Linked DNA regions of Homo sapiens. The protein of the gene in region 4 purifies or fractionates together with the protein of the main gene of each other region. This does not show direct contact. Each region holds a gene or a part of one and is shown on either strand. Other genes may lie near its edges. The genes, in order: CDYL, E2F6, AGAP3 and MIER2.

Region 1 (7,025 bases), on a different chromosome or scaffold from region 4:
ACTTTTCTGTCATCCAAAACCAATAAAACACAATTCTGTTTTTTATACAGTACTAGCCAAAGAAAACAAAAATTAGAGCTTCTAAGAGCAGTCTAGTGCTCACCTTTATACTTTTACACCTGCGTGTATATAAGTATAAAATAATGACGTTTGGACAAAGAAGCTTTGTAGTTATTTATTTTAAAGTTACAGTACTTTAAAACTCCTCGATAATAAATAGCGTGGATGTTCCCAGTCCTGCTTCCAAGCGTAAGCTACGGGTGAGCTTGTTTCAGGCTGTGAGAATGGATCAGGGGAACTGGAGCCGGTGATGTTCTCCTGCTCAGCCCGATCCCGGTGTCACCAGTGGGCAGCCCGACACTCAGAACTCATCGATCTTCCTCTGCAAGTACTTTAACATGGAGTCCATCCCCTGGGCCGAGCCCCAGATTTTCTTCAGCACCTCACACTCCCTCTCGTTGGCCTGCTCCAGCTCCATCTTCATGTTGCAGCGCACGAGGGCTTTGGATTCCTCAAGCACCTGCACCGGAAAACAAGCAGCCAGTTAGCAGGGTGCATGCGGGCAGACACGGGTCCCCTGTGCCTCCACATTTACGGAGGCAATCATCAAATTCCAGCAATCACCTGTTAAAAAGGTTACCAGACATTTTCTCACAATATGTCGGGCCTAACATATGTATAAAGCACATTTCACACTTGGCACTGGGTGCATTCTTAACTTCAAAACGGCTTATTTCAAAGGAGAGCTGGGCTGTCGGCACCCAGCCTGTGAGCAGCCTCGGCCCCGCGCCACTGCCGCATACTGGCGTGGACCCCCGAACTGGACGTCTGCTCTGCTGATGCCCAGAAAGCTCTGGGGATGCCTGTTGAGGGAATTTTTCTAAACAAAATGTAATTTTCATAATGAGGGTTGCTTGTCTGCCTGGGATGGGAGTCGTGTCAGTTAATATTATACATTTCACATCCTATAATTTGCCAAATGCAATTTTGTTACAAGCATATTTTAAAAAAAAATTATTTGTGGTTTTTTTTTTGACACAGGGTCTTGCTTTGTTGCCCAGGCTGGACAGCAGTGGCGGGATCTCCGCTCACTGCAATCTCCGCCTCCCGGGTTCAAGCGATTCTCTCACCTCAGCCTCTCGAGTAGTTGGGATTACAGGCGTGCACCACCAAGCCTGGCTAACTTTTGGATTTTTAGTACAGACGGGGTTTTGCCATGTTGGCCAGGCTGGTCTCCAACTCCTGACCTCAAGTGATCTGCCCTCCTCGGCCTCCCAAAGTGCTGGGATTATAGGCGTGAGCCACTGTGCCCGGCCTATTTAGCACATTTATTAAACAAAAACTTAGGAGGCCGGGCACAGTGGCTCATGCCTGTAATTCCAGCACTTTGGGAGGCTGAGGTGGGTGGATCAACTTGAGGTCAGGAGTTCGAGACCAGCCTGGCCAACGTGGTGAGACTCCGTGTCTACTGAAAATACAAAAATAACCCAGGCATGGTGGCGCATGCCTGTAGTCCCAGCTACTCGGGAGGCTGAAGCACAAGCATCACTTGAACCCGGGAGGTTGAGGTTGCAGTGAGCCAAGATTCCACCACTGCACTCAAGCCTGAGCGACAGAGTGAGACTCCATCTCACAAACAACAACAACCCAAAAACAACTTAGGCCCACTGTGGGGAAACAGGGGAGAAGCTAATAATGTGACTGAAAGGCTTTGGAACCAGTAAAGAATTATATCCATGTTAGTTGTTGTTGACTTTCATAGGACATTTGCTAACTTGCTGACATTTCAGACTGAAGTCCATTTCTGTGGTTCCTGGGTATTTGCAAAGGGAAGGCAAGGCGTGCGTGGGGGCAGTGGCGGCAATAGGTTCTGGCAGGACTTCACGGGAAGGTGCTCTGTTGAGGACAAACGTAAAGGACTTAGGAATAATTGCAAATTTGTGAGCTCTCTGAGGGAAAAGTTTCTATTTTTTAAAAAGTAACGTGTAACAGAAGCAATTAGACATACAACTGGATTGCACGAGGCAAGCTCCTTAATGCGAACCATCACTTCCTGAGTGAACGTCCCGGGCCAAAACACCTGGGAGACCAGGCCCTTGCCACACGCCTCCTGCGCTGTCAGCTTCCGTCCACTGAGCAGCATCTCGTTTGCCTGCAAGGAAGAAGAGTGGATGTAATATGAATTGCGGTGGGAGGCGGGCGGGGAAGACCCATCCCTTAAAATCCACACCGAAGGGAAACATTCACAAATACCAGCCCCGCAGGGAAATGGGGCACATCCTCTAGGGGCCGCTGGGAACAGACCCTGTGCAAGGTGCAGTCCATTGGGCAGGTGGGAAAGTAATCTATCGGGCTGATGATTTTTTTCTTAAAAAGGAAAGCAAAAAGTGTCTTATTTTACAACCTACTACAGAATTACAGGGACTCAATAAAGAAATCTAAAATAGAAAAGGTCTTTTTGCCATTCGTTTAAAAAGTTACTGGTATAGCTTCCTCTCCTCTCATCTGCCTTCCTCCCCCTAATGCCGGCCCTTCCCACGTGTGAGCTCTTTTAATACACAAAACAATCCTGGGAAAATCAGCATATGCAAAGTTAGGCAATTTATAATTTTAAGGATTTGAACCAGGCACAGAATTCCTACCAAACCTTTTCTTTATCTGGGAGGCCAATGGTGACTTGTTTTTAATATACAGAAAAAATATTCTAATGGCAGCGACCGTTTCTGCTAGAGCGTACCTTGGAGGCTGCCTTGTATCGCTTGGATACGAAAAGACAGAACTATCCAGGGCTTGAATGTGGCGAAAAATGACCGTAATCTGCTTGAGGGGCTGGCTACAGTCACCTCACACGGCTCAGTGGAGAAAGCTAACATTAGGTTTTCTTTAAAAGAATATATATGTGTATATATGAAATTAATTTTAACCTTGTCCTGGATTCTAGATCACTTTATTTTTTAATACATGACACTGAACTAGATCACTTTTAAGGTCTCAGTACAACATGTATGGATTTTACATCATTCAAATGACAGGCTCACAGATGCCGAGATAAGGCGGGAAGGGGTGCACACATGTCTGATAAAGAAACTCCACACTGGCCTGAGGGGACAATTTTTGGTCTGTCGTTTATCTTGCCCGGTTAACCTTCCTAACAACTCTGATGTCACAAAGCCTTGACTATGAGCTCCTGGGGCTCTGGTAAAACACAATTTCGGTAGGTGGCTTCCACTTCCAAAAGAGGCAAAATCACAAAAGACAGTTTTGGCCCTGAAGTCGCTGAGACAGTGTAAGACTGCCCATACACCTTCTGTCAATGTCTTGATGCCGTTTACTGCATGTGAAACCCGCAGCTTGGAGAGCACACAGGCAGAGGCGGCAAAGCAAACACGTGGCTGACTCACTGCCCCTCCCATGCAGGCAGAGGCTGGAAAACAGGGCTGGGGACAGGCTCCTCATGAGGGTTTGCAAGTTTTTTTTTTTTTTTTTGAGACGGAGTCTCCTTCTGTCGCCCAGGCTGGAGTGCAGTGGTGCAATATCGGCTCACTGCAAGCTCCGCCTCCCAGGCTCACACCATTCTCCTGCCTCAGCCTCGTGAGTAGCTGGGACTACAGGCGCCCGCCACCACGCCCGGCTAATTTTTTTTTGTATTTTTTGGTAGAGACGGGGTTTCACTGTGTTAGCCAGGATGGTCTCGATCTCCTGACCTCGTGATCCGCCCGCCTGGGCCTCCCAAAGTGCTGGGATTACCAACTTGGAGAAAGTCATGAGTTTTTGAAGAGTCTGGAGAAGTTCTAGAAACCCCTGAACTGACGAGCTTCTTCTCAGTGAAAAGACGGTCCATAAACAGTGGATTTAGAAACGCGACCCGACCTTACTGTGAGTGGTTCTGATAGTCCTTGTCACGGCAGATCCAAACGCAGCAGGAAAGGGAGTGGGACTCCCGGTGTGCTGCTGCCGCACGAAGTGCTCTGTGCTGTCGGGGTTTTCCTTTCATAGACTGTGCTTCTTTCATTCTCAGCATAGAGTGAGGACACTACAGCCACATCCCTGAAGTTGAGCATGAAGTATGTTCTCAGGACCAGCTTAGTGGAGCCTTAGCTTGGGCAGCGGAGGCAAGCGACCCCGCCAGGCCTGGTGTCTGCGGTTCAATCACAAAGGGCAGGTGTCCGCAGGCTTCCTCTCCCGCCCTTCCTGCAGGGCCCTGGCTGTCTGTCCCAGTCAATTCTTCCAACTTTATTTTCTGCCACCTGGAGGTCAACTTACAGCCCCACCACTGTTCTCTTCCCTGTCTCCCTTTCGTCCCCCCTTTGTTGACTCTCTTGGGCCTGATACCAGCCGAGAACGGCCCTTCTCTCTGCTCAGCACTCACTCATTGCGGCCGGTCTTCCTCCACAGCCCCGCCGGCTCCAGGCCTGCTCATCCCTGGAGATCCTTTCCCTACCTTCGGTGTTCTCCATTCCAGGTGGTTGGATGTGCAGGACAAGCAAGGGCATTTCTCAATTTACTCAAGAGCAAAAATGACAGGGCTCACGCTAGGTTGTTAAAGCTTTTTCACTTAAACACGGCCAGTGAGTTGGTTTGAACGACAGTCACCCAAGAAAACAACAACAACAAATCTCCCTTGGTAAGATATGTATTATAGGATTAAATACACGCAATTTGCGTGAGCATATTCTTATATAAACACACTATTTTCAGTAGTTTCAAAATGAGAGGTTTCAAACTTCTACCCAAATAACCGATTCACACAGATGCAGGCGGTGGGAACCTGACCAGCTAGCACGTTGCTCTGAGATGGCTGAGTGCACAGGGACTCCCTGTAGACAACCTACATCACCCCATGATGTGGTCAAAGTTGTCCAACTATTAAAAGAAAGTTATCCTGGAACCATCCAGAGAGATGGGAAATGCCGAGGAAAGTTAAATAGAGATGTCTTTTTAGTTTGGCCAGAGTACAGCAGGACGGGTGGCGAGGAAACTGGCCCAGTATGAGCAGAGGGGATCCAGGAATCTTCAGCCTTATGGGGACTGCTGTGGCAGAGGTTTTACCACCTGCTCCCTCAGGCCAGTCTCTGAAGTCCCCAAGAGAGGGCTCTCAAGGTGTGAGCGTGGGGTAAGGCCCTCAGGTACTCGCTGGGCATTCTCCAGCTTCACACCCCAGCAGGCCCCTGAGAGGTGCAAGATTTCCACGTGGGAGCCTGTGGGCGTCAGACCGTGCCATCCTCCATGCACTCCATGAATGTCTACTGGGCACCAGGAAGGCTAAACTGGAAGAGACTCCTTGGCTGATTTACGTAGCCCTCGCCTACAGCGGAGGGCCTGCTGTAAGAAAGGAGAGGCCACACAGCCTGCACTATTTGCATATTCTTTTTATCTTGATAATGTGATTCCTTTAGCTTATCCTCCTGGCAGAGCTCTGCACATGCAAAGTGGGGAAAACCACACTTGTCCAGTCTTGCCTCAGGCTGCTGAAAGCTCAAGTACACCAAAGGCTCATGAAAGGAACGACATCATTTACATCATCTGCATAGTCACTTTCAACAAGAGTTGTCGAAGTCATCTGAACAACGTTTATTCACTTTCTGTAGAGAGGCTTCGTCAGATACTCTGCTCAGAAAGTGTAGAATTCACGCCGAGTGAAATGCAGGCTCTTCGCTCTTGAGTTAGAGCAGGGTTTCTCCCCCTGGACACTAGGGACATTCTGGGCTGGACTGTTGTTTGGTGTGGGGGCTGTCCTGTGGGGGCTACATGCAGGGTGCTAAGCAGGGCTGTCCCGTGGGCTATGGAGGGTGCCGAGCAGTACCCCAGCCTCTGCTAACGGCCATCTCCTCATGTGTGACAACCAAGTTGTCTCCAGACATTGTTCCCCAGGGGTGAGGTCGGGGGTGAAAACTGCCCAGTTGAAAGCAGCAGCTCAAGAGGCACCAGTACATCTCCAGGGGAAGCGTAAAGTAAAGATCTGCCAAGGCTTGTAGAGTAGGGAGAAACACGGCTGACCAGAGGGCAGGCATTCGTCCTGTGATGACTTCAAGCCTCATGGCCCTTTCTGGGAATGGTGAACTCTGACACCTCTACCCCTGAGCAGCATTCAGCTCCAGGGCTCCACTTCCAAAATGTCTTTGGCCAAAATGTGTCTGAACATCAAGGTGGTTTAGTATTTGCCCCACATCTGCACCGACACCACACATCTACATAGATCATACAGTGGGAGGGGTCAGAACCTCAGATCTCAACCTCCTTTGGATAAATAACTCAAAATGAGATTCACGGGATGTTCCAGAGGATGAGGATTCTTTCCTGCCGGGACAGGGTTAACTGGCAGGACACAGTCTCGTTTACAGTAATCACTACGATGAACTGATTTTACTGATAATGACTCTACCATGGGAGTCTGGTGGTGTCAGGTGCGTGCAGTACGGTGTAAAGGACAAAGCAAATGACTTGGATAAGCCACCCACGTCCCCACCCCAGCAAACTGCCTGCTGTGGGAAGTGCTGTCAGCAGGCAACAGAGAGCTCAGGGCCTCCCCCATGGACCGCTCTTCCCAGGGCCGCCAACCCCACGGCCAACTGCAGTGGGGCACCGGGAACCGCCGTGAGGCCACGTGGTTCCAGAGCTCCCTGTCAGTCAGCTCTGCCCAATCCTGCTTCCTTTCTGCCCTTCCATGGACGCTGGCACCTAATCTACCAGACCCTGCTTCCCAAATCTATCTTAGCTTCCAGAGAAACCACCTTGTGACGAGGGGAGTGGACAGACCGAGGGTGAAGAGAGAGGTTTAGAAACTGCACGGCTCCCCAGCTGGCAATGAGGGACCACCCCCCAACAGGCCAGGTGGAGAAGCCACAGTACCTGGCACAGGCAGCCGTCCACGTGCTAACACTCTCACAGGTGAGGGGCAGGGACATGGGTGCAAGCAGAGGGGCAGCCGGGAGCAAGAGGCAGAGAGGGCTGAGACTTGGCCTTAGCCCCTGGACTTGTCAGCAAGAGTGGACAAGCTCCACCCAGGTTAATCAGCCACTGGAGGA
Region 2 (7,025 bases), on a different chromosome or scaffold from region 4:
TGCCTTGTTTCTTTTAATATGAAGTGGCTTATGAATTTAATGCAAACACTTAAAATCAAATATACAAGGAATCAGGGTTTTCTCTACATGTAAAAGAGCGTCACTGAAGAACTTAGGTTGAATGATATCATAATCCAATTTCTGTATTAGACAAATCCCCCTGGATTTTTCCAGCATCCAGGTTGGAAAGCCTGGAAGCTGACTGCCTTCTAAGAAGGAGACCCAGCAACTTCAGCTACAGAGGAAGTTAGACCCTGAACGAGAAGAAGCAATTCAACGTTGTGGTAAAGACTCTGGGCTCTTGCGTCAGAGAGGTAAGAGATTCAACCCTGACTCTGAGCAACTCACCTCAGCCTCTCTGGGCCTTTATAAAGTAAGAATTCTAATCCATACCTATATTTTGAAAGGTCATTGTGACAATCCATGCAGAGAGCTTAATGCAGTGCCAGGCACTGTATGAGCTCAATAAATGTTAGATATTATTATAAATTGGTGGTATGGGACAGATGCAAGAAACACATCAAAGGTGAAGCTGACCAAACTCAGTGACCAACTATGGGTGAGACTGGGGCAGGCACTGAGGCAAAACTAAGGGTGAGTATTTCTAAGATTCACACTGACTTATCGATGCACTATGTATCCACTGAGATTAGGAAGCTGAGGTGGGGCGGTCTATCATGGAAACTTCCAGAAGAGGGAACTAGAGCCATTTACATCCTATCGCCTCTAACAGATACCCTAAACATTAACCTAAGATAAGGGACAAGAAGGAAAGAGTACATTTCTCTCCCAGGAGGAATTCTGAGAAAATAGCCTTAAATACAGACTGTTCTATGGAGAATAAACTGGCATTTGTGCACATGATTCAACCCATAACCTCAGGAGTTGTTACTAAAACTTGCAACTTTACATTTCAGTGTACACATAACAAATTGTATTTCAGTTTCTCATCAACTCATACACTTAAACAAATCATTTTAATCATAAGAAGTTCAAACTAACAAAACCTAAAACCTATTCAGGAATCAACTTACTTCTCATGGACACATATTGTACATTATCTTCTAAATTAATCCTTATTTTTGATGGCTGAAAAAAAAGATAAAAAATTTAACTTAGTGATTTTAAAACAACAATGCAAACAAATAGCATTTTACTCAATAGTATAAAGGTCTGGGAATATGAATATGATAATTACTGGCTGGGCAGAGGCTCACGCCTGTAATCCCAGCACTTTGGGAGGCCGAGGCAGGTGCATCACTGAGGTGAGGAGTTCGAGACCAGCCTGGCCAACATGGTGAAACCCCATCTCGACTAAAAATACAAAAATTAGCCGGGCGTGGTGGCAGGCACCTGTAGTCCCAGCTACTTGGGAGGCTGTGGCAAGAGAATCGCTTGAATCTAGGAGGTGGAGGTTGCAGTGAGCCAAGATCATGCCACTGCACTCCAGCCTGGGCAACACAGCAAGACTCCGTCTCAAAAAACAAAACAAAACAAAAAAACATGCACACACACACAAAATATACTGAATACATCAGGTACGATCATTACAACACTGTCCCTGACTTGGGAAAGCTTAGTAGAGATAGAAGATCTATCTCAACCAACACATGCTCACTCCTTGCTATTATTAAGTACACGTGGTTCCCCAAAATTTGCTCACAAGCTTTCATAGGCAGCTATGCATTCCCATTATAATTAATGTAAAAACAGCAGCATTTCTAACAATGGAAAACAATGCATGCTGTGGGTAACTAGAAACTTTTGCGTTAGATAAAAAGTTTCTTTTAAATTCCTGAAACAACCAGGAAATTAGTAGAAGCTCCATTATCAATGCTCACCATTTTACCAGCTATTTAGAGGCTCTGAAAGTTTGCATAAAACTGGTAGTAACATTTAGAAACTGTTTTTCTGTAAAAAATAAATAAAATGAAACCAAACCTTAAAATGAAAGCCTATGAACAGAAACTCCTAGTAACATCAATGTTAATGTGCCTCCAGACAGGCTGTCATCAGGTTTAGCTCTTATCTAAGAAAAAACTGGCCATAAAGCAAAACTGGGGCAAGTGAATTCATAGGTACTCTAAGAAGAGAATCAACAGCAGTACTAGGGATACACCCAGACAGGGAACTCACAGAAGGATTCATGGCGAAGGCAGCCCTCAGCTGAGCCTAGCCCAGCAAGCCAGATTTGCCTGAATAAACAACTGTGGGGAGAGAAGAAAAAAGACAGGATTGTGGTACCGGAAATGAACAAAGGTGTGAAGATGTATATGGCATGGCATGTTTCTGGGAACCCACTGAAGTGGCCAGTGTGTAAGTGACTTGACTTTGAAGCTGGGAGGGCATGCTGGCACCACATAAAACTAATGCTAAAGAGTTTGGACTTTATGTCATAACCAGTAGAGAATCACCAAAGGTTTCTGAACCAGACTAGGACATAATTAAGTAAATGGTTTAGAAATATAAGTATGGCAGCAATATGGCAAAAGGACTGGGAAATGAGGAAGCCTGAAGGCAAGGTGAGCAGTTAAGAAGCTCTTTGTTTATACTGGTGTTAACAATATCCTCGGCACAATGATTTCCTTATCATCTATGACAAGATGATAGCATCTATTAACAAATCACCCCAATATGGAATACTCCCATTGAGACAGAATCCCACTGTAAAATTAATTTAGTTGTTAGAATTGAACACGTAGACCTGCTAGGGCATGCAACACTGGAGCTGGGAATGCTGGCCTTGGGGGTAGGGACTAGGTCTGGCCAGCTCTCTCAAACAGTGCTGACAATGGTGACTTGCAAACATGGTATCCAACAGTGAAACTCTGAAGCAGTCCTATCAAAGTCAGACATTAGACAAGTGTGACCAACTGCCATTGCTATTTTTACATTTAACCCCTCTGCTAATAGTATGAGACGGGCCAGCTACGGTAGCAAGATTCTTGAATGGAAAAAAAAAAAATCCATCCTTATCACATTGATTTGAAACACACATAAACAAACATCCTAAATCCTTATATATAAGCTCAGAGGGGCCTTGCTGCAGAGGTTCCCGTTCTTAATTCAGAGTAGCAGGCCCAGGACTTACACACTCTACTTACTGGCTCCCAAAGAGGCTGCCTCGCTAGCTATGCATTCTAGGGTGTCTTCTCTGCTACACACCTCCCTACCCATCTCATCTAGACAGTGGATCACAGGTTGGTACAGAAATAACACCTCAGTTAGGCATAATATGAAAAAAGATGGCTTTGTTTTCCCCACTCTTTGCTATCAATGCAGTTCCATTACATATTGGCTATACTGATGTATGTGGGAAAACAGTCTCCAAGAGCATTCATTTGTTTTTTTTTCCTCTTCAAATACAAAAACACTCTATCTTGGAGGAATCACAACAGTACCATTGCCCCTCAGTGGCAGACATCATATACAGACATATAGATAGAAACATAAGTCCAGGCGCGGTGGCTCATGCCTGTAATCCCAGGACTTTGGGAGGCGGGGTGGGGGGAGGAGATCACAAGGTCAGGAGTTCAAGACCAGCCTGGCCAACATAGTGAAATCCCCGTCTCTACTAAAAATACAAAAAATTAGCTGGGGGTGGTGGTGGGCACCTGTAATAAAAGCTACTTGGGAGGCTGAGGCAGGAGAATCGCTTGAACCCGGGAGGCAGGGGTTGCAGTGAGCTGAGATCGTGCCATTGCACTCCAGCCCAGATGACGGTGCGAGACTCCGTCTCAAAAAAAAAAAAGATGATAAATAGGCAGATTGTTTGCATGCTAGCTGCAAAATGAATGGAGAAGTCAGAGGCTTACAAAATGAAAATCACTCAGGCTGATCTTGTGCCCTGACAGAGTATACAGCTCTCTAGGAACCAGCATCTTCTGGGGCAAGTCAGCATATTTTTTCAAATTCCAAGCTATTTCACCACTGCTCCAAGTCCCCTATTTAAAGACCTATACTTTATTGTGTAGCTTTGAAGAGCTGCTTCAAAGGTGGAAAAAAAAATAAAAGATGAAGTTTAGGGACTAAAATGCTAAGCACTGCCTCCAAGCTGGTTAAACCTTTCTCTATACAGATGTTTCTCTACACCAATTCTGTTTTGGGGAGCAATATTCCTTCAAGAGGTCTTTGGAAAGGTTATTGCATTCTCACCCATTCAAATTTTCCTTATTTTTCAATTATGCAGACCAAGTTCTACCTCCAATCAATGCTATTTTCTCCCTTCTCAGAAGTCCAGATCCTCTGGGACCCTCTTTCCCGTTTGTCCTTGGACAACAACTTCAGATTCTCTGGCCTTTGGACTCTAGGAGTTACACTAGCAGCCTCCCAGGTTCTCATGCTATGGACTTGGACTGAGCCATGCTACCAGCATCCCAAGGTCTCCAGCTTGCAGCCAGCCTATTGTGGGGCTTCTCAGCCTCCAAAATCATGAGCCAATTTCCCTAATAAATTCCCTCTCATATATCTACATGCAATCATGCATCTTCTCAGAATCGTCATTAGGCGATTTTGTTGCGTGAACATCATAGAGTGCTTAAACAAACCTAGATGGTACAGCCCACTACACACCTAGGCTATACAGTATAGCCTATTGCTGCTAGGCCACAAACCTGTAGAGCATGTGACTGACTGAATACTGTAGATAACGGTAACTAACAGAATGGTATTTGTGCATCTAAACATAGAAAAGGTAATGTTTGGTGCTATGACCATTATGATGGCTACAATGTCACCAGGTGATAGAAATTTTTCAGCTCCACTATAATCTTACAGGACCAGAAACCTAATACAGATTTGGTACCAGAAGTGGAGTGAGTCATACTTTGCACCTCACCTTTAGGGGTCTGCTGGGACTTGGGTCTAGTAATAGGTCTAGAAGCAAAGAGGGGTGGCGGGGTGGGTCCTGATGAGAATCAGCACTGTCTTGTCCGGGAACTGTTTCAGAGGAGGCCATTACTATCTCCACAGGCAATGCAGAATTAATCCCCTTAGACAGGGGTGGAAAGGATGATACCACTGTAGGTGGAAATGCTACTGCCCCTCTGGCAAACAAGACTCATCAGAATTTAGGGGCTCAATGTGTCCAGCCTCATCTTCCCACATGATCCCATCCAAACTTGCAGGACCCCACTCTTTCCCAACCAATACCCTCACTTTAACAGTAGATGCTCTGTGAGGCTAAGAGAGTTCAACTTTCTATTTTATTTATTTATTTATTTTTGTGATGGAGTTTCACTCTTGTTGCCCAAGCTGGAGTGCAGTGGCACAATCTCGGCTCACTGCAACCTCCACCTCCTGGGTTCAAGTGATTCTTCTGCCTCAGCCTCCCGAGTAGCTGGGATTACAGGCGCACGTCACCAAGCCTGGCTAATTTTTTGTATTTTTAGTAGAAACGGGGTTTCACCACATTAGCCAGGCTGGTCTCGAAATCCGGACCTCAGGTGATCCACCCGCCTCAGCCTCCCGAAGTGCTGGGATTACAGGCATGAGCCACCATGACTGGCCAAGAGTTCAACTTCCATTGTAATTTGGCCAGTTACATGATGAAGGCTTGTGTTTGATTTTCAGCAATTTCAGCCCCATGGCTACAGGATAGAAGATTCTAACCCAGGGCACACTTAGAAACTTTTAGGTCATTTATGTGGAACTCCAGCCATGAAACTGAATCCCTGAGCTCATCCTTTTCTTTCATCACTTTGTCCAAAGACAATAGGAGCAACCAACCAATGTCATTATAATCCTTGTTTTCCCAAAAATATTTGAAAATATCACATATAGCGTCACTAAATTCTTTGCCTCTTATAAGCAGTGAATTAGAATAAAAAGGCATTTATTTTGCATATCTATAAACAGTTTGTGTCATGGACTTCCAGTGCTCTCTCTACTATTAGAAGTAGAGCTCTTGGCATTTTTAGATTCTAATCAGATTAAAGAATCAATTCCAAAAACCCCAATTAAGGAAACTCATCTTTAATATTCTGTTTCCCAGAACCATTCCTGGTACCAAAATCTGTGTTAGTATTGGTCTGTCTCTCTGGAGAGCCCTGACCAATAGAGTAATAAATTCAATTCTGGATATAGAGTAGTCCACCCTTATCCCTGGGAGCTACATTCCAAGACCCCCAGTGGATGCCTAAAACCGCAAACAGTACCAATCTCTATATATACTATTTTTTCGTATACATACATACATGTGATAACATTTAATTTATAGATCGGGCATAGTAAGAGATTAACAGCTAATAATAAAATACAACAATTATAGCAATAAACTACAATGAAAGTTATGTGAATGTGGTCTCTCTCTCAAAATATCTTATACTGTAGATCTTAGCGACCTCAGAATAAGATTTTTTTTCTTTCCTTACTAAGTCAAGAACTTAGATCTTTTCACTTAAAGGAAGCACTTCATCAATTCTCTTCAGCATACTGGAAGCACTACTGGAAGCATACTGGAAGCACTACTTTTGTGCTTTGGGGCCATTACTGAGAAAATAAGGGCTACTTAACACAAGCACCGTGACAGTTGGTCTGAGAATCAAGAAACAGCTACTAAGCGACTAAGGGCAGGGCGCAGTGACAGCATGGGAACTCTGGACAAAGGAAGATTCAGGTGCTGGGTGGTACTGGACAGCTCAAGATTTCATGACACTACTGAGAATGGCAAGCAGTTTAAAACTAATGAATTATTTCTGGAATTTTCATTTTAATAGTTTGGGGGACCACAGGTTAACTGAAATAAAGAAAAGTGAAACCTCAGATGAGAGGGGACTAATAGGAGTTTGAAACCTAAGTAGGAAGGTCTAGTAGACAGCTGGAAAACCCTGAAGGAGATTTATAGATTTGGGAATTATGACATGGTAACTGAAAATACCAGAACTGTATGTCTAAGATTTCAAGGGATGTATCTGCTGATACTACATGCAAACTAAGTGGTTTTTCCACAGTGAGCTTAGAGTTTTTATCACGTTCTCAAATATTAAGACCACCAATACAGATGGTACCAATATACAGCTGACCCT
Region 3 (7,025 bases), on a different chromosome or scaffold from region 4:
AAAAAAAAGAAAAGAAAATTTAAGTTCACACGTGTGACTCGCCCATGTCTACTGCACAGTGCTGAATCAGAGAAAAAAACAACAGGCAAAACATCAAAGATGACCCTGGGTGTTCACGGGAACGTGCAGGCCCTGTGACAGCCCTGCCCCCTCAGGTCCCTTCCCCTGGGCCTGGATGAGCTAAACCAACGTACCCCACACTCTGCCACCTGGGCTCTCAGGCTCGGGTCCGGAAATGGTCATTCCTGTGATCTCATGCAGCCCTCACCTCACGCATCCCCACGCAGGCGGTGATGACAGCTGAGCCTCTGAGACAAGTAATGAGACAGTCGCCACCCAGCACGCACATCCTCAGGGCAGCTGCTGCTCTAAAAGCTCTGCAGACGTTAACTGATTTGCTTCTCACGCCCACACCATGAAACGGATGCCCATGTTTTACCAATGGCGAAGCTAAGACACAGAGGGGTTAAGGAACTCACCCGAGGTCACACAGCTCCCAAGTGGTAGGTCTGGGACTCAAATCTAGGCAGCCTGGCTCCAGAGCCCAGGTGCTTAACCTCTATTCTATTCAGGCCCTGAGAGAAGAAATGAAGGCCAGGCTTCATTCCACATCACCCAATATAGAACCATCCAGAACAATCTAGAAGTAATAATGGGGTGGCAGGGGGGCAGGGGGTGCTGCCTCAGAGTGATGGAAAGCCTCCAAAACGTCCCAACTCTTCTCAAACAAAGGCTCTGGGGCTTGCCTTTCTGGTATCTTTTTTTTTTTTTTTTTTTTTTTTTTGTACAACTGTGATTGGACAAGACATTTAGAGCATCTTTAACCAAAACCTCCTCCAGGCACAGAAGTGCCATCCACCAGTGCCTGGAAAAACCCAGGCCCAGGAAGGGGTGGGGATCCCAGCAGAAGCAGAGCAGAGATCCCTGGAGGGGTCTAGACTTTTCGGTCCTCCCTCTGCCCCTGTGACAGGCTTTGATCCCACTCCAGGCGCTGGGGTTTCAGGTTTGCAAGCCATCAAAACACCAAACTGAAAAGGCTAAAGGGAAGCTGCTGTAGGCAGGCACCCCTACGGCGGTAAGGAGGGGTTCTGGCAGAAAAGGAACAGGCACAAAGCCCTAAGGTACAGCCATCTGGGGCTACGGTATGGAGCGGGCACAGCCAGCCTCAGCCTCCTGGGTGGCCCAGAGGATGGCACTGTCTGCTCAGCTCAGGGCACATTGAGGCCGAAGTGCTGACTATGGGAACTCAGACAGTGCCTGACTTGCAGCAAACAGAGAAATGTACGTTGTAGAAAAACCTACATTAAAAGAGATTAAAACGGTCTTCAGCTCAATAAGAAAAAGTAACATTGGGAGGTGGAGGCAGGAGCATCACTTGAGGCCAAGAGTTTGAGACCAGCCTGGGCAACACAGACCCTGACTCTACAAGACAATTTTAAAAATTATTAGCCAGATGTGGTGACACATGCCTGAGTCCCAGCTACTCAAGAGGCTGAGGTGGGAGGATTGCTTGAGCTTAGGAATTTGAAGTTGCAGTGAGCTACGATCGCGTCACTACACTCCAGTCTGGGTGACAGACCAATATTCTGAGGAAGGAAGGAAGGAAGGAAGGGAGGAAGGGAGGAAGGGAGGGACAGAGGGAAGGAGGGAAGGGAGGGAGGAAGGGAGGGGAGGCCAGGCATGGTGGCTCACACCTGAAATGCCAGCACTTTGGGAGGTGAGACGGGAAGATCACTCGAGGCCAGGAGTTTACAGCCAGCCTGGGCAACATAGTGAGACCCCATTTTTACAAAAAGAAAAAAGAAAAAGAGGAACAAACCAAAAGTAAAATGAATAAAGGATATGTACAGAATGAACAAAATGCAAATGACCTCTCAAAAATGTTTTAATATCAACTCTCACTAATAGTCAAAGTGAATCCAATAATGAAATAGCTAGTGATCAACTAGTAATCAAAGTCAAACAAAGTAAAACAACGAGAGTCATTTAGTCTTTTTTTTTTTTTTCTTACGTATCAGATGAAGAAGGGGTGCCGGGGAAGTGGGGCAGGGAACTCCAGGCTGTCTCTATGCCTGAAAATCAAATGGCCTTTCTGGAGGGCAGGGTGCCAGAGTGCCGCAAACGTCCTAAAAATGTGCCGACCCCAGAGTCTGACCATTTTCTTCTGAAAATTTGTCCAAAAGCAATAACGAGACAAGCGTACAAGGCGGCACGTAATAAACAGCATTCCCTTACACAGGATACCCTGCCGCCTTTCAGAATAATGCCTGATATTTCACCTGTGCTTATGACACGCTAGGCACTGTTCTAAGCACACCGCGTTGGGGGTCTCAATCCTCAGCACTACCAAGCGGCAGAGCTTTGTTATGACCCACCTCAGGTAAGGAAACAGAGGTACAGAAAATCTCACCTCTCCCCACAGGATCTCTTCTGATTCTCAGCTCCTGGAGGGCTCCAAGGGGGGCGCATCTCAAAGTGCTGCATGACAGAGGCAGCCTCAGAACAGATCTCAGGGACCCCAGCTCAGGTGCTCACTTGACAGACAAGACCCCCGGCCAGGGAGCCAAGCCTGGCCTGTTCCAGATACTCACGCCAGGGTCACCCCTAGCTGCATAGACAACCAGAATGTGACTCTCAGAAGACGCACCCAGAGCAGACTTGCCCCAGCTCTCACAGCCAGTTAGTGGCAGAGCAGGGACGGGAACCCAGGTATCCTGACTCCCAGCCTAGGAGCTGCCAAATACGCAAATGAACACGGGAGCCTCCTTTTGTGAATCTCCGGCTCCCCTTCTCCCAGCAAAGCATTTTCCACAACAATCCCACGTTTGCTGCGAAAGCCTAGTAACAGCAAATCCAGCAAAGAGTCGTTAATAGAAAAAAGACCAGAAGGATGCACATCCGACTGCTCACCACAGATCCTCCCAGGAGAGGGGAGGCCGGGCAGCCACCTTCCTACTTCTACATTTGAATGGCTTGTAACAAGCATGTATTTACTTTCATCCCTTAAACACATTAAAATGAAATTTAAATTAAATACATATTTGGGCACGGACGTGGTGGCTCATGCCTGTAATCCCAGCACCTTGGGAGGCCGAGGTGGAAAAATTGCTTGAGTCCAGGAGTTCAAGACCAGGCCAAACAACATAGCAAGACCCCATCTCTACAAAGAATGAAAAAATTAGCTGGGTGTGCTGGTGCATATTTGCAGTCTCTGCTACCTGGGAGACTGAGGTGGAAGATCGCTTGAGCCCAAGATTTTGAGGCTACAGTGAGCTAGGACTGCACCACTGCACTGCAGCCTGGACAACAGAGGGAGACCCTGTCTCCAAAAATATATATACACACACATATACATACATATAATACATACATACATATATATGTTTCTTGAGCAAGCATCTGTCTATTGTACGCTACATCCGTGCTACCCATGGGAGACAGACGCCTCAGAGAGCCACCATTCAATTCAGTTGGGGATTGAAGACGTCCAGAAGAAAATTATAGTGGGGAGCAGAAGAAAATTATAGTAGGGAGCAGGAGGCCTAATTCACCCTAAAATTATATTCTAAAGGCTTCCAAGAGTTAAACTCTGGTCCATTTGACTCCCATAAAGTTTCCTGTAGAAGCAGCTTTTAAGGGCTGATGTGGTGTGGCCAACAACACTTATTCAGCCCATACATGCAAGGCAAACCACAGAGACCTGGAGTTGGAGAACCAGAGAAAATCCCTGCTTCCTCCCCTCACTGCGTGGCTTCAGGAAAGTTACTTAATCTAGGTCCTAGGCTGTCTCACTTGTGAAATGGAAATACTTGCAAATCCAAAAAAGACCCTCCTCTGGGAAAATAAACTATGAGATGCAAAGTGTTGCAAAGCCTCATTCCAACCCCCAGCAGTGAGCCTGGCAGAGGGAAGAACATTCACGGGTGGAACATGCACCACCCAATCTCTGCGCCCTCAAAGCACGTGGCTGGGCTCACCCCCCTTCCCTACCTCAACTCTGCGCTCCAAAATAAGCTCCCTTACCACTTGGCCTGCAATGGTTTAAGTCAGCTAGGGGTCAGGAGGAAAGCATCAGATTAAACTAATTTCCAGTTACCTGCATATTAAAAAGAAACTAACACAACAGGTGGATGTTTAGGCAATGCCACACACGGACATGGGAGTTCTTACGGGGGTGTCTGTCTCCCCCCAGCCTTGGCTCTCCCAGGCTACACCTGCTTTCCAAGAAGCGTACCTCGTTCCCTCCACTTCTGGGCCAGGGACGCACTGACAGCTGGTAGGGGGCTCACAAGCACAAACGAGCGGTGTGGATGCTGGCGTGGCTCAAGCCTTCTCAAAGGCTTAAACGCTTGTGACGCCCATCTTTCGCAGAATGACGCACCAACTCCTGCGGTTTCTAGGAACACGGCAGGGTGGAAATAAATACTGGAGAAAGCATGAAATACTCCTTCACCAGGGTCCTGCCCACCTCACCCACCCATCTCCTACAACTCAACACCCGAGCTGCAGAGTCCAACTTGCCGTTCCGAGAGCCACACTATGTTCTCCTGCCTCCGTTATCTTCATCATCCTGTTTCCTCTATGTGGGAATCCTCCGGACCCCCAGGCCTGGCACACGTTTGAGGAAAGAAATAAATGATACAGGAAGATTGCCAGGTGGCATCATAGGGACAAGGACTGCTTCATCTGTGGGGTACCACTGCTGGGGAGAGCCAGAGCTGAGACCCTGGATGGAGCAGGGTACCAGGGGTTCCCACGAGGCCATGCAGCCTGAGATCAGGCTGGACAGGTCTTCCTGTTCTGGCTTCTGACCCGGAAGAAAGAAGTCGTGATGAGGTTTCCCAAGTCTCTGACCTTTGCCCTGCCCTGGTCTTCTGAAAATCTAGGTCTCCTTCTGGACTCCCAGTGCCTCTCTGGCACCTCCTACAGGCTGAGTCGTTCTCTCCAGGTGCACCAAGCCCAGACCTTCTGGCCCCTTCGCTCCCTGTCTCTCCTTTGATTGTCTGCTTTTCACTGTGCTAGATGCAACTGGGCCGCACAGTAGGAGCTAAATGAATGTATCTGGAACAAATGAAGCTTTCCCTGGCTACTAGCACCCACATGGTTATGCTCTTTTTCAGAATTGCTAGAACTCTTGCGAGCAAAGTCCTGCATAAGCAACCAGGCCCCCATGAGACACTCAGTCCCTAAACCAACGAATTGCCAGAGGGGCCTGGGCTGGCTCCAGATGCATGTCCCCGGCACCCATCCCAGACCCCCCCAGTCCTCATCTTTGAAGGGAACCTCAGCAGTGTGTGGTGCAGCAGGGCCCACGGCGGAATGCAGGGCCCGGCCAGGGAGTGCCCACCCAGGAACAGTAAGGAAAGCTCAAGAGAGCACCCTGGCACAAACATGGGGACCATCATGCCAGTCCTCCAGGATCAAGTCACAGGACGAACAGAAACAGACACAAACACTAAAACCCCAGGTGTGCCTAAGGGCTGAGGGCTGTGGGATGCCAGGGCGTATGCCGTTTTGTTTTGTTTTGTTTTTGTTTTTTTTTGAGACGGAGTCTTGCTCTGTTGCCCAGGCTGGAGTGCAGTGGTGCGATCTCAGCTCACTGCAAGCTCTGCCTCCCAGATTCACACCATTCTCCTGCCTCAGCCTCCCGAGTAGCTGGGACTACAGGTGCCCGCCACCACGCCCGGCTAATTTTTCGTATTTTTAGTAGAGACGGGGGTTTCACCATGTTAACCAGGATGGTCTCGATCTCCTGACCTCGTGATCCGCCCGCCTTGGTCTCCCAAAATGTTGGGATTACAGGCGTGAGCCACTGTACCCGGCCACATGCACCGTCTTACTCTCCCTCTGAGCTGCCACCCAACTGCAGTCACAGCTGTGGCCCCTTCTCTGTCTAGCTGAGGCTTGACCCAAACAAGAAACCCCCACATCTCTTTACCTTAGTCCCTTTAGGATGTCACCAAGCCCACAGCCCAGGGCAGGCAATCTGTGAACTGAATGAAAGTGAGTGGGGTAAGGGTGACAGTGAGAACGCTCTGCTGGCCAGGCCAGGCCGGCTGGAATGCTCGAAGTAACTGTTTAAAAAAAAAAAAAAAAAAAAAAAAAGCCCTAGTGGGAAAACGATGGAGAAACCTGAGTAAGTCACCCAGCTGACAAAGCCCAGCTCCGGCACACATAATAGTAGCCATATGGCACACACACCTAATAGTCAGGTCCACTTCCACTTCCAGGCGGGAGCCCCCCCCCCCCATCTGGGAACTGCCAGCAGGGATCCCAGGCCCTCCCCAAGCCCCTGCTCCTCCCCTGTGCCGGGCCCTCACCTGCACACAACGACTGGGACCAGCAGGTCCTGGAAAGATCCCGGGCTCCTTTGGGGCTCCTGGCTAGCTTGGTACAACATCCTGCGCTCCACGTGCCCAGTGTCCCCATTTGGACTGAGGCCCTCGTTCTCCTGCATCCCTCTTTCTAGGACTCAGCCAGGAAACCCAAGCTGTCAGGGAGCGCTCACTGCAGGTGAGTGCCAAGCCGGAAGCGGGCTCCTGTTGAAGGCCTATACTCTCCCTGGCTGTATCCGCTTGGCTCCCTCCCTTCTCTGAGCCTCAGTTTCCCCACTAGTGAGGTGAAGGTGGCTCAGAGGCTCTGCACATAGTGAGCCCTCCAGCTCTCCCTCCCAGCTGAAGGCTGTACTTCTTCCACTCCCTAAGGCCAAGTAATGGGCAGGTTTTCTCTTTCCTTGGCCTCTGGTGGGAAAGGAACTTTTCAAAATGGTCTCCCTCTCCTCAAATCCTGTCCTGAAACACAGGAAAGCCAAACATCCCCTGCTTCCTCCTGTCCTGGACACGGGGTCAGAAGTGACTGTGAGTGGCAGAGACTACAGGAGGCCCAAGTGCCCACTGCACTTCCTCAGAGCCAGATGGATCCTGACCGCAGGTCCCACGTCACCTTCAGAGCTGGGACAAACAAACCCTTCACCGAAGTCTAAACAGAGTGAGGGAGGCTTTGTTATACACTCGGAACTGCCGCCC
Region 4 (7,025 bases):
AGGTTGGGAGCCACTGTCTCACTGGATCTGCCTTGTGGATTCACTAACACTGAACTCACGGCCAGCAGCCCCAGAGCTTGCGCCTGAGTGGAGCTTCTCGAATTTTCTCTGAAAGGGACATCATAGCCTTCTTCCACCTAAGAACACCAGACAGAACGTCGGCACTACATTTAGGGGCCACTTTAATCCGTCAAGTAGCCGACACAAGGCACAAGGATGTGAAAAACGGCATTCAGTACACGGCAGGAAAGGCACGTGCTCACAGTAAAAGATCTGAGAGCCAAGACAGAGCAGCAGCTTGTCCCACCTCAGCTGGAACTGTACGTCAGGTAACTCGCCTTCACTGACACTCTACACACATCTGCTGGCGCCTGACCGTAAAGGTGTTGCGAGTTTTGATTTGCGGTTTCAAATAAATTTTACCAAGTAGGCAATTCACCAGCACAGAACCCACAAATAATGAGGACTGAGTGCATGAGATACATACACACAAGAGAGAACACTTCATGGCCAGGAAGCACGTTTATTCCACCGTGCACCGTTAACTTAACGTTTGAAAATCAATTTATGGGCCGGGCGCAGGGGCTCACACCTGTAATCCCGGCACTTTGGGAGGCCAAGGCAGGCGGATCACCTGAGGTTGGGAGTTCGAGATCAGCTTGGCCAACATGGTGAAACCCCATCTCCGCTAAAAATACAAAAATGAGCCAGGCGTGGTGGCGGGTGCCTGTACTCCCAGTTACTTGGGAGGCTGAGTGGGAGAACTGCTTGAATCCAGGAGGCGGAGGTTGTGGTGAGCTGAGATTATGCCACTGCACTCCAGCCTGGGCAACAGAGCAAGACTCCATCTCAAAAAAAAAAGATTAAAACTTGTCAGTTGCTGAAAAAAATAAGTTTTAATCTTAAAACTTACATAGATATGCAATGAAAACTTACAAAGTTAGAAGACTTGCACCACCTCAGACTTCCTTGTAACCTGTAATAACTGAGACAGTGGCGATGACTCCGGGTGAGACAAGACACACCTTACAGGCACCTGATTTACCACAAAGGCGTCACTGCAGCTCAGTGGGGGAGACAATGGACTTTTGTTGTTTTTATTTTTATTTTTATTTTTATTTTTTATTTTTGAGACAGAGTCTCGCTCTGTCACCCAGGCTGGAGTGCAGTGGCGCGATCTCGGCTCACTGCAAGCTCCGCCTCCCGGGTTCACGCCATTCTCCTGCCTCAGCCTCCCAAGTAGCTGGGACTACAGGTGCCCGCCACCACACCTGGCTCATTTTTGTATTTTTAGTAGAGACGGGGTTTCACCGTGTTAGCCAGGATGGTCTCAATCTCCCGACCTCAAGTTATCCTCCCACCTCGGCCTCCCAAAGTGCTGGGATTACAGGTGTGAGCCACCACGCCCAGCCACCATACACCAAAATGTAAACTAAGTTGGATCACAGCCTTAAATGTGAAAGGAAAAACAATAAATCTTCTAGAAAGAAACGTGGAAGAATATCTCCAAGAGCCTGAGGTAAGCAAACACTCCTTAAGTAGAACACACACACACATTATTATTCAAATAATGATTGATAAGTTGGACTTTATTAAAATTAAAGACATCACTAAGAGAGTCAATGGGCAAACCACAAACTGGAGAAAACAGCAGCAGTGCACAAAGCCCAGAAAGACTTGTTTCCACAAAATGTGAATGACTACAAATCAGAAAGGGAAAGACAACAAAATGGGAGAAAGCTTGGAGCACGCAAAGAGAGAATATCCAAATGGCCAGTACACCTGCGAAAGGTGCTCACCAGGGAAATGCCAATTAAAACCACAATGGGACAGGAGTCCATATCCACCAGACGGGCTAAAATTCAGGCAAATTCACCCTCAGTGGCAAACACCGAGAATGTGGAGCAACTCCCACAAATCATTAGTGAGAAACTCAAGCAGTATGCGTCACCCTAAGCACACACCTCCCACACGACTCCCCGCTGTCCATCAAGTGCCGAGTGCCTATGTCCACTAACGACGCACACGAGGGCATTCACAGCCCACAGCTGAACCAACCATGACCGCAGCCCATGGCAGAAAGGGTGGGTAAATGTGGCATCCAAACCAAGGACCACGATGCAACACACAAGACACACACAACCACGGCATCCAAACCAAGGACCACAATGGAACACACAAGAGACTCAAAAACCATGGCATCCAAACCAAGGACCACAACGCAATACACAAGACACACACAACCACACAGACAACTCAAATGACAGACGTCATCACAATGCAATACACACGACACACACAACCACGCAGACGACTCGAATGACACAGGCGTCATCACAATGCAATACACAGGACACAACCACACAGATGACTCAAATGACACAGACGTCATCACAATGCAATATACAAGACACACACAACCACGCAGACAACTCGAATGATACAGTCGTCATCATAATGCAATACACAAGACACACACAACCACGGCATCCAAACCAAGGACCACAACGCAATACACAAGACACATACAACCACGCAGACGACTCGAATGACACAGACATCATCACAATGCAGTAAAGACACACACAACCACACAGATGACTCAAAGAACAGACATCATCACAATGCAATACACAGGACACACACACACAACCATGCAGACGACTCGAATGACACAGGCATCATCACAATGCAATACACAGGATACAACCACACAGACGACTCAAATGACACAGACGTCATCACAATGCAATACACACACAACCATGCAGATGACTCAAATGACAGACATCATCACCATGCAATACACAAGACACACACAACCATGGCATCCAAACCAAGGACCACAATGGAACACACAAGACTCAAAAACCACAGCATCCAAACCAAGGACCACAATGCAATACACAAGACACACGCAACCACACAGACAACTCAAACGACACAGACGTCATCACAATGCAATACACAGGACACACACAACCACAGACAACTCGAATGACACAGACGTCATCACAATGCAATACACAAGACACACAAAACCACACAGACAACTCGAATGACACAGGCGTCATCACAATGCAATACACAAGACACACACAACCACACAGACGACTCGAAGGACATAGGCGTCATCACAATGCAATAAAGACACACACAACCACACAGACGACTCGAATGACACAGACGTCATCACCATGCAACACACAGGACACACACAACCACGCAGACGACTCGAAGGACACAGGCGTCATCACAATGCAATACACAAGACACACACAACCACGCAGACGACTCAAAGGACATAGGCGTCATCACAATGCAATAAAGACACAACCACACAGACGACTCGAATGACACAGGCGTCATCACAATGCAATACACAGGACACACACAACCACGCAGACGACTCGAATGACACAGACGTCATCACAATGCAATACACAAGACACACACAACCACGCAGACAACTCGAATGACACAGGTGTCATCACAATGCAATACACAAGACACACACAACCACGCAGACAACTCGAATGACACAGACGTCATCACAATGCAATACACAGGACACACACAACCACACAGACGACTCGAATGACACAGGCGTCATCACAATGCAATAAAGACACACACAACCACGCAGACGACTCGAATGACACAGACGTCATCACAATGCAATACACAAGACACACACAACCACGCAGATGACTCGAAGGACACAGACGTCATCACAATGCAATAAAGACACACACAACCACACAGACGACTCGAATGACACAGACGTCATCACAATGCAATACACAAGACACACACAACCACGCAGACGACTCGAATGACACAGACGTCATCACAATGCAATACACAGGACACACACAACCACGCAGACGACTCGAATGACACAGGTGTCATACCGAGTGGGAGGGGCCAGCTGGCATCCCATGGGACGAAGAAGTCCTGGCTGCTCCAGACAGGGCACCCTCATGGGGGGTGAGTCAGGGTGGGGAAAGGGCCCTGATGACAGACTCCAAAGCCAGGGTTTCTGGGTGAGGGTCCCAAGTGTCCCCTCCGACCCTGCCTTCTGGATGTCCCAGCAGCTTGGCTGCACCTTCCTGGCTCCGTCCTCTTCTCACACGGGGCACCCCCGACCAGCCCCAGGAGGACGACTTCTCTTCACGGAGGGTCCCTGTCTCCCTGGACTCAGTACTTCTGCTGCACCTGTCCCTTCCCACCACGCATCTCAGCCACTGAATCACCTTGGAGAAGGCTCCTGAGCTAGGAGCACTGGCCCAGGGCCTGCAAGGGCTCCAGGGCAACACAAATGAGACCCAAGTCAATGGGCACGTGACTCCACGCCTCAAAGGGGCAAGAGAGGGTCGATTTTGAACTCTAGTGGGAAAGAGACGAAGGTCAAGCCCAGGAAAGGGAGCACCCTGAAGAGGAGCGGAGCAAGGCCGGGGGTGCAGCGCAGCATCCGGCGGGTCTCTGGAGAACCATCTAACCCGGCACAGAGCCATCGAATGCAGCGGCCCAGGCTGTGGGGAGGCGGCTGGAGTCAAGGGCAGGGCAGGGCTGGGTCAGAGGCAGGACGGGCTGCTGAGGGTCTGGCTGCACAGGCTGACCAGAGCAGACCCCAAGGGAGGGACAGAGCTGGGCAGGGGCAGGCAGCAATAGGCCCACTGCAGCCACGAGAGCCTCCCACCTCCTCCAGCCACAGGCTCAGCTGCCCCAGTGAGCGATGCGGGGCGGGGACCTGACCAGACTGTCCAAGGATCTGACGTCCAGCCAGGCCACTCCCCTTGCAGAAGTGGGTTTCGCCTCCTCTCCCCAGGCCCTACTTACTCTTCTCACAGTGCCGGTTCAAGTGCAGGTTGCTGAGGTCAGCTTGGAACTGAGGTCCCACCATGATCTCCTGCAAAGCAAGCACCTGGGAATCAGGACACTGAGGAGCATCTAGGCCGGGCGGGAGGCTGGCTGCAGCGTGCTGTGGCAGGCTTACGGGGAGGGGCCACTGTCCAGACCCCAGACCCATCTGTGCCGTCTACCTGCTGATGCCCAGTTCTGGGGTCTGAAGGTGGGAGGCAGAGGCCTGGGTGTGTGAGGGGTGAGGCTGTGTCCTGACGCCTGGCCTGGCAGAGGCCCAGACAGGATGTCGGAGGACAAACACTCTGGGTCAGCAGCAGGGGCCCAGGCTCCGGTCCAAAGCACCTGTGGCCGGTCCCAGCCCACCCTGGGGTCGAGCAGCACGTCCCTCCTCTGAGAAGGGGCACAAACCCAGGGAGAGGGCTCAGCAGGACCCGGCTGCGGTTACTGAGGCCGAGATACCAGGTTGGGGAGAGGGCAGAGCCATGGGAGGGATGCCAGGTTGGGGACACGGCAGAACCACGGCTGGGATGCCAGGTTGGAGACACAGCAGAGCCACGGTCGGGATGCCAGGTTGGGGACACAGCAGAGCCACGGTTGGGATGCCAGTTTGGGGAGACGGCAGAACCACAGTCCGGATGCCAGGTTGGGGACACGGCAGAGCCACGGCCGGGATGCCAGGTTGGGGACACGGCAGAGCCACGGCCGGGATGCCAGGTTGGGGACACGGCAGAGCCACGGCCGGGATGCCAGGCTGGGGAGACGGCAGAGCCACGGTCGGGATGCCAGGTTGGGGAGACGGCAGAACCACGGCCGGGATGCCAGGTTGGGGAGATGGCAGAACCACGTACCTTCTTACATTTGTTGGCAGGAAGAGAGTCCTCCTCGGTGTCGGAGGAGGCAGAAGAGCCAGGCTCTCTGTCTTCATCAGCCAGGAAACGAGCTTTGGGAAAACAGAGGCAGGTCCCCCAGGGTCTCCACTGCCTGCAGCCTATACAACCCCTTCTCTCCACTCCCATTCTCCATCCACCTGATCCCCAGGCCATAACCCTCTCTCTGGCCAGACATTGGGTAAACAGATGGGCACAGGACCCAGGACCAGGGATGCACCTTTGAAGAAAGAGGCCTTCCCTTCTATGCAGCTGCTGCACCTCTGGGCCCCGAGCCCTCAGTTCCCAGGAAAGCCAGCACAGAGGCTTGTGAAGGAGGCCGGTTCTGGGAATGCTGTCCCTGGATCTGCTAGGGGAACCAACATGTTCCCTACTTGTTTAAACCAAATCGCTCTGAGAGTCCAGGCTCACTGGCCAGCGTGGAGGAGAACAAAGCACCCCCAGGGCTACTGACGCTTCCCGCCAGGCAGACGCCCTCATCTGTGATGAGTTCTTGGCCTGCATCAGCCCAAGGACCCTTCATCAAGCATCACGACTGCCTGGCAGGGGGCCTGGCTGCGGTGGAGTATGGGGACAGAGTCACCTACATCCACTCCGGTTAGGGAAGAGGTCGGAGGCCTCGTGGGAGGTCACGGACGGGGTGAGGTCGTCAGCAGATGATTGCGTCTCTTCCTCTTCTTCCCCTGAAAGCAAATCCTTCGCTATTTGTTCCTTTAAAAAAAAAAAAAAAAGTAAAGAACATTTTACAGTTTAACAATCTCGCAATACCACTAATGATAACAACAGTAAAGACACTGGGAGTGCCCTGAGGCTCACATGGGGCTGCTATTCCCATTCTGCAAAGGGTGCACAGCGTGGGGGGAGCGGGGATGGGAAGGAGACACGTGGGAGCCCACACCCAGCCACCAGAGCTGGAGACAGTTAGAGCTGCCACTGGGCACACGCCCGGAGTGCATGGCTCTTTCTCTGACTGTGCATTTGGTTTTAACCTTCTACAATGCAGCCCGCCCCTGCTCCCAACACCCAAGCCTTGACCTGTGACCTCTGGGTACGGAATGGCAGAGAGACCAGTCCTGGGGAGGCCCCGATGTGCCCCTCCACCCACCAAAGCCAGAATGACATGTGGCCTGGGGTTAAGGCTAGGGTCCAGCCCCATGCCCATGGCCATTCCAACCCCAGGGTAGTGGTCACAGGTACATTCTACTTATTCTGGGGGCCTTTGTGCCTCCTCTCACTGAACACTCCCCTCTGCAGAGAGGCAGCGCCAGGCCC

Evidence for each region.
Region 1: the proteins of MIER2 (region 4) and CDYL purify together in Homo sapiens (affinity purification with mass spectrometry; 4 studies listed by BioGRID and IntAct, with this or other methods). This does not show direct contact.
Region 2: the proteins of MIER2 (region 4) and E2F6 purify together in Homo sapiens (affinity purification with mass spectrometry; 3 studies listed by BioGRID and IntAct, with this or other methods). This does not show direct contact.
Region 3: the proteins of MIER2 (region 4) and AGAP3 purify together in Homo sapiens (affinity purification with mass spectrometry; 3 studies listed by BioGRID and IntAct, with this or other methods). This does not show direct contact.

What each region holds. Positions count from the first base shown.
Region 1 is NC_000006.12:4,947,393-4,954,417, reverse strand, and holds part of CDYL (chromodomain Y-like protein), read right to left. Parts: intron 2,153-7,025; coding exon 2,009-2,152; intron 521-2,008; coding exon 362-520; 3' UTR 1-361.
Region 2 is NC_000002.12:11,456,145-11,463,169, forward strand, and holds part of E2F6 (transcription factor E2F6), read right to left. Parts: intron 2,209-7,025; exon of another isoform or gene 2,149-2,208; coding exon of another isoform or gene 2,137-2,148; intron 1,090-2,136; coding exon 1,035-1,089; intron 1-1,034. UniProt on the Homo sapiens protein: Inhibitor of E2F-dependent transcription. Binds DNA cooperatively with DP proteins through the E2 recognition site, 5'-TTTC[CG]CGC-3'. Has a preference for the 5'-TTTCCCGC-3' E2F recognition site.
Region 3 is NC_000007.14:151,089,461-151,096,485, reverse strand, and holds part of AGAP3 (arf-GAP with GTPase, ANK repeat and PH domain-containing protein 3), read right to left. Parts: exon of another isoform or gene 6,321-7,025; intron 1-6,320. UniProt on the Homo sapiens protein: GTPase-activating protein for the ADP ribosylation factor family. GTPase which may be involved in the degradation of expanded polyglutamine proteins through the ubiquitin-proteasome pathway.
Region 4 is NC_000019.10:320,793-327,817, forward strand, and holds part of MIER2 (mesoderm induction early response protein 2), read right to left. Parts: intron 6,465-7,025; coding exon 6,341-6,464; intron 5,807-6,340; coding exon 5,715-5,806; intron 4,913-5,714; coding exon 4,843-4,912; intron 1-4,842. UniProt on the Homo sapiens protein: Transcriptional repressor.